Linked DNA regions of Homo sapiens: region 2 is linked to region 1. Evidence: fine-mapped expression QTL. A gene starts in region 1. The other region holds a variant in brackets. All regions are shown on one strand. Distances are from middle to middle. Region 1 holds the start of KLHL6 (kelch like family member 6). Region 2 overlaps KLHL6 (kelch like family member 6).

The links.
Region 2: its variant is fine-mapped to the expression of KLHL6 in whole blood (TOPMed, PIP 0.92). The same link has a PIP of 0.9 or more in spleen.

Annotation. Positions count from the first base shown.
Region 1 is chr3:183,552,840-183,558,217 of GRCh38, reverse strand. It overlaps KLHL6 (kelch like family member 6), which reads left to right and starts at 2,512. Exons shown (of 7, transcript NM_130446.4): 1 at 2,512-2,857. The coding sequence starts at 2,565.
Region 2 is chr3:183,489,970-183,495,347 of GRCh38, reverse strand. It overlaps KLHL6 (kelch like family member 6), which reads left to right. Exons shown (of 7, transcript NM_130446.4): 5 at 1,067-1,269; 6 at 2,641-2,854; 7 at 3,120-5,378. The coding sequence ends at 3,421. Among named protein-coding and RNA genes, the nearest start is that of SNORA63E, 39 kb to the right of the region's middle. The variant A/G (reference allele first, on the strand shown) is at 2,164.

The sequences.
Region 1 (5,378 bases):
TGTTCATTTACATTTAACCTAAACTTGGGGCAGGTGCGGTGGTGTGAGCCTGTAGTCCCAGCACTTTGGGAGGCCGAGACGGGTGGATCGCTTGAGCCCAGCAGTTCAAGACCAGCCTGGCCAACATGGCAAAACCCTGTCTCCACTAAAGATACAAAAAATTAGCCAGGTGTGGTGGTGCATGCGTGTAGTCCCAGCTACTTGGGAGGCTGAGGCAGGAGAATCGCTTGAACCTGGGAAGCGGAGGTCGCAGTGAGCTGAGATCGCACCACTGTACTCTAGCCTGGGCAACAGAGTAAGACTCCGTCTCAAAAACAAACAAACAAACAAACCTAAACTCCAAATTTTCTTGTAATTTTTATTAGAGTAAAATAAACCTATAAATGTATTCGGAAAGAATTGGTCCTTTTAATAATATTTAGTCTTTCCATAAAGGAACTTGGTATATTTATTTAAGTTTTCTTTCGAAACTCTTAGTAAAGTTTGTTAGTTTTCTTTATGTTGCTGGTTGCTGTTATTGCTAGGCATTTACATATGTTTTATTACCATTGTGAATGGCATTATTTTTCCATGACTTTTTTTTTTTTTTTGAGGCAGAGTTTCGCTCTTATTGCCCAGGCTGGAGTGCAATGGCACAATCTCAGCTCACTGCAACCTCCACCTCCCGGGTTCAAGCGATTCTCCTTCCTCAGCCTCCCAAGTAGCTGGGATTACAGGTGTACGCCACCGCGACTGGCTAATTTTTGTATTTTTAGTAGAGATGGGGGTTTCACCATGTTGCTCAGGCTGGTCTTGAGCTCCTGACCTTGTGATCCCCCTGCCTTGGTCTCCCAAAGTGCTGGGATTACAGGCATGAGCCACCACGCCCGGCCGTCAGGTTTCTTTATATGCTCCATTATAATCTTTTGGGACCACAATTGTATATTCAGTCCATCATCGATTGAAATGTCATTGTGCTGGGCATGACTGTACTTGTGACCGTTAATTTTAGATGTCAAGTTTACTGGGCTAAGAAATACCTAGCAACCTGTTAAAGCATTACCATGGGGCGTGTCTGTGAGGTTGTTTCCAGGAGAGATTAGTGAGTCTGAGTGGACTCGGTAGAGAAGATACACTCTCAGTGTGGGTGGGCACCATCCAATCAGCCAGGGGCCCAGAGAAAACAAAAACAGAAGAAAGGTCGATGTCTCTATCTCCTGAGGCTGGGATACAGTCATCTCCTGCCTTGAACAACAGGACTCCAGGATCCCCTGCCTTTGGACTTCAGGACTTACACCAGTCTCCCCACCCCCTGGATTCTCAGGCCTTTGGCTTTGGACTGAGAGTTATACCATCTTCTCTGGTTCTGAGGCCTTTGGACTTGAACTGAGCTCTCAGCAGTCTGTCATGCGACTTCTCAGTCTCCATAATCACGTGAGCCAATTCCCCTAATAATTTCCCTCTGCTATGCCTCTCTAGGTATCCTTTTGGTTCTGTCTCTCTGGAGTCCATCATCGACTGAAATATCATTATGCTGGGTATGACTGTAATTGTAATGGTTAATTTTAGATGTCAAGTTTGCTGGGCTAAGAAATACCTAGCAACCTGGTAAAGCATTACTGTTGGGCGTGAGAGAACGCTAACTGATACGCTCCTATAACTTCCCCAGGATATCATGGGATTTTAATAATGACAGTTATTACTACTTAACTGAGACATGCAGAGGTAATGAAAATACTTCAGGATCCACCGTTAGATGCACGGTCAGTAGATGTTGGGCTAATCTGAGACGTGCTATGGCAATTCGGTGTAGACCCACCCTGACTCATCCTCTGAGAAGATGCTGTTGATGGAGTTTTGGAAACCATTTCTTCTGTGCCCCCAAAGCATATTCGAAACAATAGACATTTTTTTTGGTGGGGGAAGACATGAAAGTTTGCCATGACGTTGTTTTCCCCTGGGTAGGGAGGAGGATGAAGATAGACGATCTGCAGTGCCGCCAGAAATGAGAATGTCAGGGATAAGTGGGGTTTCCATGGTTTACAAAGCACGGTTGTTGGATCATTGTGGGGTCTCAGACTCCTGGGAGGAGGAAGTGGGAGGATCATAGACTGTCTCCTGTCCATCCCCTCGCTGACGACTTGGGTTATTGAGCCACTAGGAGTACAAATGTGAAGCAGGAGGATTATAGACTGTCTCCTGTCCATCCCCTCATTGACGACTTGGGTTATTGATAGCATTAGGAGTACAAATGTAACAGCCACCACCGGAGGCTTCCTGCTCACGGATATGAGGTGGGAGATGCACCAAAATAAACACACAGCACTCACAGTGGACTCTGAGAGGACACTCCTCTTCCAGAACCCCCTCCCACACACCTATTCTAAGTAATTTCTAACCCTGTGATTACTCACAGAAAGAAGAAGAATAGAAGTTGCTGGCATTTGTAGTAACAGGATGAGAAAGTGCGAGACTTCCTGTTATGTGTGTGTGACAGCTGGTGATAAGTGGAGGGCCCTGCACAGGAAATCCGCTCAGCTCCTGCAATGGGGCCTGCCTGACACTTGGGCGCTCCTTCAGTCTCGATGTTGATGGCAGGACAAAGGGGCGCCTGGACCATGGGTGATGTGGTCGAGAAGAGTTTGGAAGGGCCCCTGGCACCTTCTACAGATGAGCCCTCCCAGAAAACAGGAGACTTGGTCGAGATCTTAAATGGGGAAAAGGTCAAATTTGACGACGCGGGACTCTCCTTAATTCTTCAGAATGGCCTGGAAACCCTGCGAATGGAAAACGCTCTGACAGATGTCATCTTGTGTGTGGACATTCAGGAATTCTCCTGCCACCGCGTGGTGCTTGCCGCAGCCAGCAACTATTTCAGGTCAGCATGCCTAGGACCAGAGTCAAATTGGGTGCAAGTTGCAAGGAAGAGGTGTGTTAGTGTGAGAGCCCAATCTTGAACAGTTGGCCATGATATTTATGGTTTACATATATATTAAGGCTTGTGTGTCTACTTAAAATATAAGAAAGGACACTATCACACTTTATTTTATTATTTATTTATTTATTTATTTTTGAGACGGAGTTTTGCTTTTGTTGCCCAGGCTGGAGTGCAATGGCGCAATCTCGGTTCACCGCAACCTCTGCCTCCTGGGTTCAAGCGATTCTCCTGCCTCAGCCTCCCGAGTAGCTGGGATTTGCAGGCATGCACCACAACACCCGGATAATTTTGTATTTTCAATAGAGATGGGGTTTCTCCATGTTGGTCAGGTTGGTCTTGAACTCCCGACCTCAGGTGATCCACCCGCCTCCGCCTCCCAAAGTGCTGGCATTACAGGTGTGAGACGCTGCGCCCGGCTTATCACACTTTAAATTTTAGGATTTAGGCCACATTAAAAGAGAGATTGGCATCATTTAAAAGCAATGCTTACATTCTATAGTAAACCTTTTGTGTATATTTCCTTGTTCCAAAGGATGGAAAATTACTGAAGTCATGGGGACTTTTTTCCCCCTTGGTCTGACTGGTGTTGGAAACATAATGTTGTCTTTGTTAATCAACAGACATAGAGAAAAAGGATGTGGCCCCTCTTCTGGAGTTGTCAAATGACTTGTTACAAATTAGGGGCTTCTTTATGTGTAGGCAGTGTGGGGAAAGGGAAAGCAGTTACAAAGATGCTTTAGATGGGAGAGGCCTCTAGTTACGATAAACTGGTGATCTCATAGTGGGAAGGCCTGAAGTCAGGAGACTTGGTTCCTTCTTGACAGTGAAACTTTAGGCAAGTCACAAAGTGCTCTGAATGTCTGTTTCATCATCTGTAAGGTGAGCACAATGATGATCACCTTTCAGGGCTGTCATAATTAAACAAGAGCGTGAAAAGGGTCCTACACAGTGTCTAGCATATAGTAAGTAGATGCTCAATATATCTTTCTTGGAATTCTTTTTCTGATTCTGCTTGATTCAGCTAAGGATGACTTATTGAGTGTTTCCCATGAGCACGTCCCTGGGGTAGGAATTTTATAGCGCTGGGAACCCAGTGAATACACCTGATCCAGTGTTCTCCATATCAGCATGGACATGGGGGAACCAGCCTGCAAGGGCAATGTGGATAATGAAGAAAGTATTTGGGAACTTGAAAAGAAATACCCTTAGAATTCTTCTTAATGAGATTCTTCTTAACTCTTGATTCTGGCTGAGGAAATTGAAAACGATTAACCTATGAAAGTATTATGGAAAGCGTTTTCTTTCTTTCTTTTTTTTTTTTTTGAGGTGCTTGGGGGGAAACGTTTCTTTGTAATTCATAGAGCAGGATCAGCAGGTTGCTGTGGGACTCATTAGGTCTCCTGTGTTGATAAGACAAGGGGATATCTGGGTTTGAGGGAAGCAGTGGCTGCTGTGTGCCAGACAGACATAGTTATCTGATTTTATTTTTGTAACAGCATGATGAAGGTGGCTGATATTTCACAGATGAGGAAATGAAAACTCAGCATTATATATCTGGTCATTGCTGGAGCAGGGACTGGGTATGTTCTGGAAATCCTTGTTACTGCAATGCAAGCTGCCACTAGGTCTGGGACTTCATTCCATGGGAAGTGTGTAAAATATAAAGTGTAAACACAGCCATCAAAATGGGTTGATATAAACACATTACTTTCTCCACCAACCTTGATCACGTGCTTTCACGTTGACTGCAGCCCCTCTCAGGAGTGAGTGAAGTCAAGTTAGCTCAATGCCCTGGGGACGCACATTTAGGTTGATCCTTTTGTATCCCTTGCTATCATAAAATGCATACCTGGAAGCAGTTTTGTTAGCGGGTTGGCCTGGCTGTGGACCAGGCCCGCTGGCTGTGTGCCCTCGAGTTGATCACTGGTCTTCTCTGGTTCTTGGGTTTCTCATCCTAAATGGGAATTTGGGCTTGGGTCCTTCCAGCCCTGCTGATCCAGGATACTTAGGGAAAGTCTCTGCCGGTCGTCAGAGGAGGCAACGGCAATGAGAAGCTGGAGAACATGAGGGTGAAGGCATCTGACTGTGTATACAGAGCCTCTCCCAAAACTGCCTGGTCATGAGAGGAAATTCCTTCAATTCTTCTCTTCAGAGAAGTGACTTTTGCTTCTTCTCTTGGGATTTTCAACGTGACTTTCCTTCTACAATGAATACTGTCCTGGAGACAGGATTCTTTCTTCCGGTGCTACTATTCCTATCAACTCCTGTTTGTGGAGCGCTTACTGTGGGCCAGGCCCTGTAGCTTCTGTATCACATACTCTAGTCCACTCCACCCTCACAACAACCTGACAAGGCAGGGAGTCCTATCCCCAGCCTACCGACGGTGAGCCAAAGTCCAGAGTGTCACAGCAAATAAAAAGTAGCCAAGCTGGGATTTAGACCTAGGACTGACGTTAAATCT
Region 2 (5,378 bases), 63 kb after region 1:
TTTTCCGTCAGACTTCAAAAAAATAAATAAATAAAAGAAAGAAAACAAAACCACCACCACCAACAAAAAGTGGGTATGAGGAAAAGTCAACCACCACAGCTGCGGAGGATGCCTTGGCTGCACCTATAAAAATTCAGGGTGCACATGGCTTTGACTTAGTAAACCCACTTCTGGGTTCCATGCTAGAGAAACACCCCTGACACAGAATGTGGTCAGTAATGTTCATTTCTCCACTATTGCACACATGTAAGTCTGAAAAGTAAATCTTTGCTTTAAGTAGTTGGTGGTAGTCTATGCTGATGGGAAAATGGAAACACAAAGCTGTTAAATATTTGATTAAAATCACCCAAAAAGTCAGTTCTCCTTTGTCTTTGTCTCTTTCCCCAGCTGCTGAATTTTGTATTTTCTGTTTTTTAAGAGAGTTGCCTTCAAGAAAATGTTTACCAGATCACTCTCAAATGATCTATTGTGAGCATCTCATACTTTTATAACAAAAATTATTTAGAAATAGGATAAATCCCACTGATTGTTTTAAACAGATCAGAGCGACAAACCAGGAGAATGTTGTAGGATTTCTTAGTGATTTTTCCAGGTCTGTATCTTTGCTTTTTGGTTTAAATAAAAAGTAAACATAGAATTTAAGCTGCCATGTAATTTGCCTTCTGCACAAACCCCACTGTCCCCGCCCAGCCTTGCTTCCTGCTCCCTGTGAGGGCAAACACTGAGTCCAGGCTCCCTCTGGTCCCTACCCACCCAGGCTGGCTTGGGTCCTGCCCCCTGAAGCCTTCTCAGGGCACTGCTCACTTAGCCACCTCTTCTCTGAACTCTCGCAGCACTGAGGTGGACATGACACAGTGTGGCACATCATCCATTCTGTCTCTCCCTGTTCCCCTGCATTTGCCTCATCTCCCCTGCCAGACATCACACACCTGCTGGGTTTCTTGTATCTCCCCTCAGGGTAGGGCTGGCCTGGGGACCTGGCACTTTTGGACATGTGGGATATTATGGGAGAAGCTGTATTTCTGACACATCTGATGGTTTCTTAAATGCTTTGTATCTCTTGCAGGTGGCAAAGAAACACAGCATGATGTTTGGAAATATAATTCTTCGATCAACAAGTGGATTCAGATTGAGTATTTAAACATAGGCCGCTGGAGGCATAAGATGGTGGTGTTGGGTGGCAAGGTCTATGTGATCGGAGGCTTTGACGGCTTACAGAGAATCAACAATGTGGAGACCTACGACCCCTTTCACAACTGCTGGTCAGAGGTATAGGACACGATTTCTACCAGTAACTGCCTGTATTATTACTTCAGTGCTTTTTTAAAAAGCTTTGGAACGTGCCTGCCGTGGTGGTCAGCTTTCTGATCACTTTACTTCCAAGGAGAACAGTTTTGGTGGCTCTGAGCTTCCCTCCTCCTAGGAGCTATTGCTTCAGTATTGCTGATCAAGTCACAGAAACAATGTCCTTCCAAGTGGTGAAGGTCTGTGTGGGCACCTGTCCTAATTTGGACAGAACCCCAGATGTGCACAGAGGCTCACCCTGTCCTTAGATGGGAGATCTCTTGGTCTGCATGTCTTGGTGTAGAGTCTTGTCTCCTCAGATGCCTTCTCTCCTATTCTTCTCCACACTGGACACATGCGGATCACTTTACTACACCGTTTATGAACCCAGAGTGATTTGGTCATGTTAGAAATCATCCCTTCTTTATTTTCCCATGGATGATGAGCCACTTACAGGCCTGCATGTCAGACTTTAGTAATGCAACCTCAGGTATATATCAGACCCAGGAAAAGAAAAGCCACCTCATCTCATTTCCAGGTTATTCCCAGTTTCAAATTTTCTTTCTCCTTATCAGATCAGATGTCCAAGCATGTTCCAGCTTAATGGAATGTACAACACAGTCATTGTAGGCACAAGCAAAGGTAGCCAGGTCACCACATCTAGCCAAGACTGTCAGCCTGAAAAGTGCTATATTGAGAGCCCTTAACATGTATGGGGGACATGCCCAGGATCTTCTCAAAACAAGCCCTATCACAGAGCTGCTCCACGATCTAAAAGGATCCTGTAAATAAATGGGCAAGAGGCTCTTGGAAGTCTCCTTTACTGTCCTGGGGTTCACAGGATAGAAGCACACGTCTGACTTAATCTCAAAATCCTCA[A/G]TGCTGCCCCATAATGGAAGAGTCTGCTTACCTGTGGCCACCGTTTCAGCTTTTCTTCCTAGATATAAGCACCAAGGAAAATCAATGCTGGTACATAGTAGGCATTCCATAAATATTTTTCGAGTGGATGAGCACATGAATGAATATGAATATGCATGTATAAAACATCATTTTCCTCCCACACTGGCTGACTTCATCTGTATAAACTTATTCTTGCCTGAGAGCTGGATTCCGGGAGAGGCTGGCACATCCCAACACACAGCTTGCTCTAGCTTGCGTGGAGCCTGGAGGGAGGGTGGGAAATGCATGCTTTCATTCTTGCTGTGTCTTAAGAGGAGTCAAGCCCATGGGCCTTGTGACTATAGGCAAAAGATGCCCAGTTCTGTGTCCCGGAGCTCTGTCCTGTATCCTGGGAGCTACTGCAGCAATCTGGGCAGCATGACTGACAGCTTCTTCTTGTGCCCTGTGCCTCTACAGGCCGCACCCCTCCTTGTCCATGTCAGTTCCTTTGCAGCCACCAGCCATAAGAAGAAGCTGTATGTGATCGGGGGAGGGCCCAATGGGAAACTGGCCACAGACAAGACTCAGTGTTATGACCCTTCCACCAACAAGTGGAGTTTGAAGGCGGCCATGCCCGTGGAGGCTAAATGCATCAATGCAGTGAGTTTCCGGGACCGCATCTATGTCGTTGGTGAGTAATGGCTTCTTATTGGTCTGAATGGCTTAGAACCTGATGAGCGCCTGGCTGCAGCACGTAAACGGTGTGTCGCGGTGTCTCCAGCGCTGGCAACTCACTGCCCCTAGGACCCACTCTGGCTTTCAGGAGAGCCATCAATCGACTGTTTCTCTTGGCAAGAGGGTAGACTTGGCCTAATCAGAAGTTGAATTTTAGTGGTTAAGAGGGAAGAAACCAGAAAAATGGAGCGATGCCCACCGTGTTTCCTCCCTCTCCTCAGGTGGGGCCATGAGAGCGCTGTACGCCTACAGCCCGCTGGAAGACAGCTGGTGCCTGGTGACCCAGCTCAGCCACGAGCGGGCCAGCTGCGGTATCGCGCCCTGCAACAACCGGCTCTACATCACCGGCGGGCGGGACGAGAAGAACGAGGTTATCGCCACGGTGCTGTGCTGGGACCCCGAGGCCCAGAAACTGACAGAGGAGTGCGTCCTGCCCCGGGGCGTGTCGCACCACGGCAGCGTCACCATCAGGAAGTCGTACACCCACATCCGCAGGATCGTGCCCGGAGCAGTGTCTGTCTGACGGCAGGATGGGGAGCTGGAGAGCCCCCCCGACCCTCAGCGTACCCGCCTCACCTCTCACCCTCCTCCAGTCCCACTTCAGGCAGCAGGCTCGAGTTTGAGGCCATACATCAGGGGATCCCCTTGACTCACTTTGGGGGAACCTTGGAAGTCACAGTTTGGGGTCACTTGAGACCGGCCAGGAATGTTTGCATGACCTACCTCAGGAGGGGAGGCGAGGAAGAGTAATATTTAGCATTCAGGACCCACCCACCCTATGCCGGCTTCTGTGCCAGGCACTTCCTTTTATCGGTTCATTTAACCTGGTGACTGGCTCTTATCACTTCTAGTTTACAGGTGAGGGAACCAAGTTTCACAGAGGCTAAGTGGCGTGCCCCTGATCACTCAGATAGCAAGTAGCTACCCCAGGAGTCTAAAATCCAGGTCTTTCATCTCCGAAGTCAATGCTCTTTCCACCATGCTGCCTATCTCAGAGCAGGAAAAACAAACAAAAAACAACAACAAAACCTGGCTCTTGCTGGGCGTGGCGGCTCACGCCTGTAATCCCAGCCCTATGGGAGGCTGAGGCGGGCGGATGACCTGAGGTCAGGAGTTCAAGACCAGCCTGGCCAACATGGTGAGACCGCCCCGTCTCTACTAAAAATACAAAAATTAGCCGCGTGCAGTGGCAGGCGCCTGTAATTCCAGCTACTCAGGAGGCTGAGGCAGGAGGATCACTTGAACTTGGGAGGTGGAGGTTGCAGTGAGCCGAGATCGCCACACTGCACTGCAGCCCGGGAAACAAAAGTGAAGCTCTGTCTTCAAAACAAAAACAAAAACAAAAACAAAAACAAAGAAACCTGGCTCATTTCTTGTTTCGGCAAGTCTGCTAAAAGATTCACTCAGCACAGCAGGGAAATAAAGGTGTTTCCTGCTTTCTTTCCTTTTCTTTCTTATTCTGCATCCTCCCTCGTCCCCGCCCTTTACCAATATTTAAACCAAGGAGTCATTTGGGCTCCTTGCCAAGAACATCTCATAGGTTCTTCCACTTGAAAGGTCTGGGGGATGGGCTTGGGAAGGCCTGTTTGCTTTGAAAGAGATGAAATACTTGTGTTCTGTCCTCCTCCCATTGAAACCCTCTTTTTTTTTTTTTTGAGATGAAGTCGCCCAGGCTGGAGTGCAGTGGCATGATCTCGGCTCACTGCAACCTCTGTCACCCTGGTTCAAGTGATTTTCCTGCCTCAGCCTCCTGAGTAGCTGGGATTACAGGCACCTGCCACCGCGCCTGGCTAATTTTTGTAGTTTTAGTAGAGACGGGGTTTCACCATCTTGGCCAGGCTGGTCTTGAACGCCTGACCTTGTGATCTGCCCGCCTCGGCCTCCCGAAGTGCTGGGATTACAGGTGTGAGCCACTGGGCCCGGTCTTTTTTTTTTTAAATGATCATAAGATGGCCCATTTTGGACCGGAACTGTCATTGCCAGACAGAATTGTACCTTTAGCACATTCTGGTGCCCTGGCCTCTTAGTGTTCACCAGTTGTACTGCAATATAGACAAGATGTCTCTAGAGACTCAAACTACTGTTTTATTAAAAAAGTAAACACCTGAGCACAGCTGGCCTACACAGGAGCGACAGATTCTCCTTGATGGTACACTTTCTAGTTTTTACACAGTGATTTAGGTCCACGTTCCTGATACCCCATCCTCCTGAAGCCTTCGTTTTCAAGACTTTTAAAAAGCACTTCTACTTGGTTTTTTGATCAGTGTAGCTCAATTGTGACTTAAAGAACAGAATCTGTCCTTCACTGTAAGAGCTACAGCTTTCAAATGAGCTCACTGGAAATTCATTCTAATCCCCAAGCTGGAGAAACAGGTTAAGAGATCCTGTTTCATATGCTGTATTTAAAAAGCAACAATGATAACAACATAGTAACTGCGTTACCCAATGGACTTTATTTTCATCATATGATTTCAATTCTC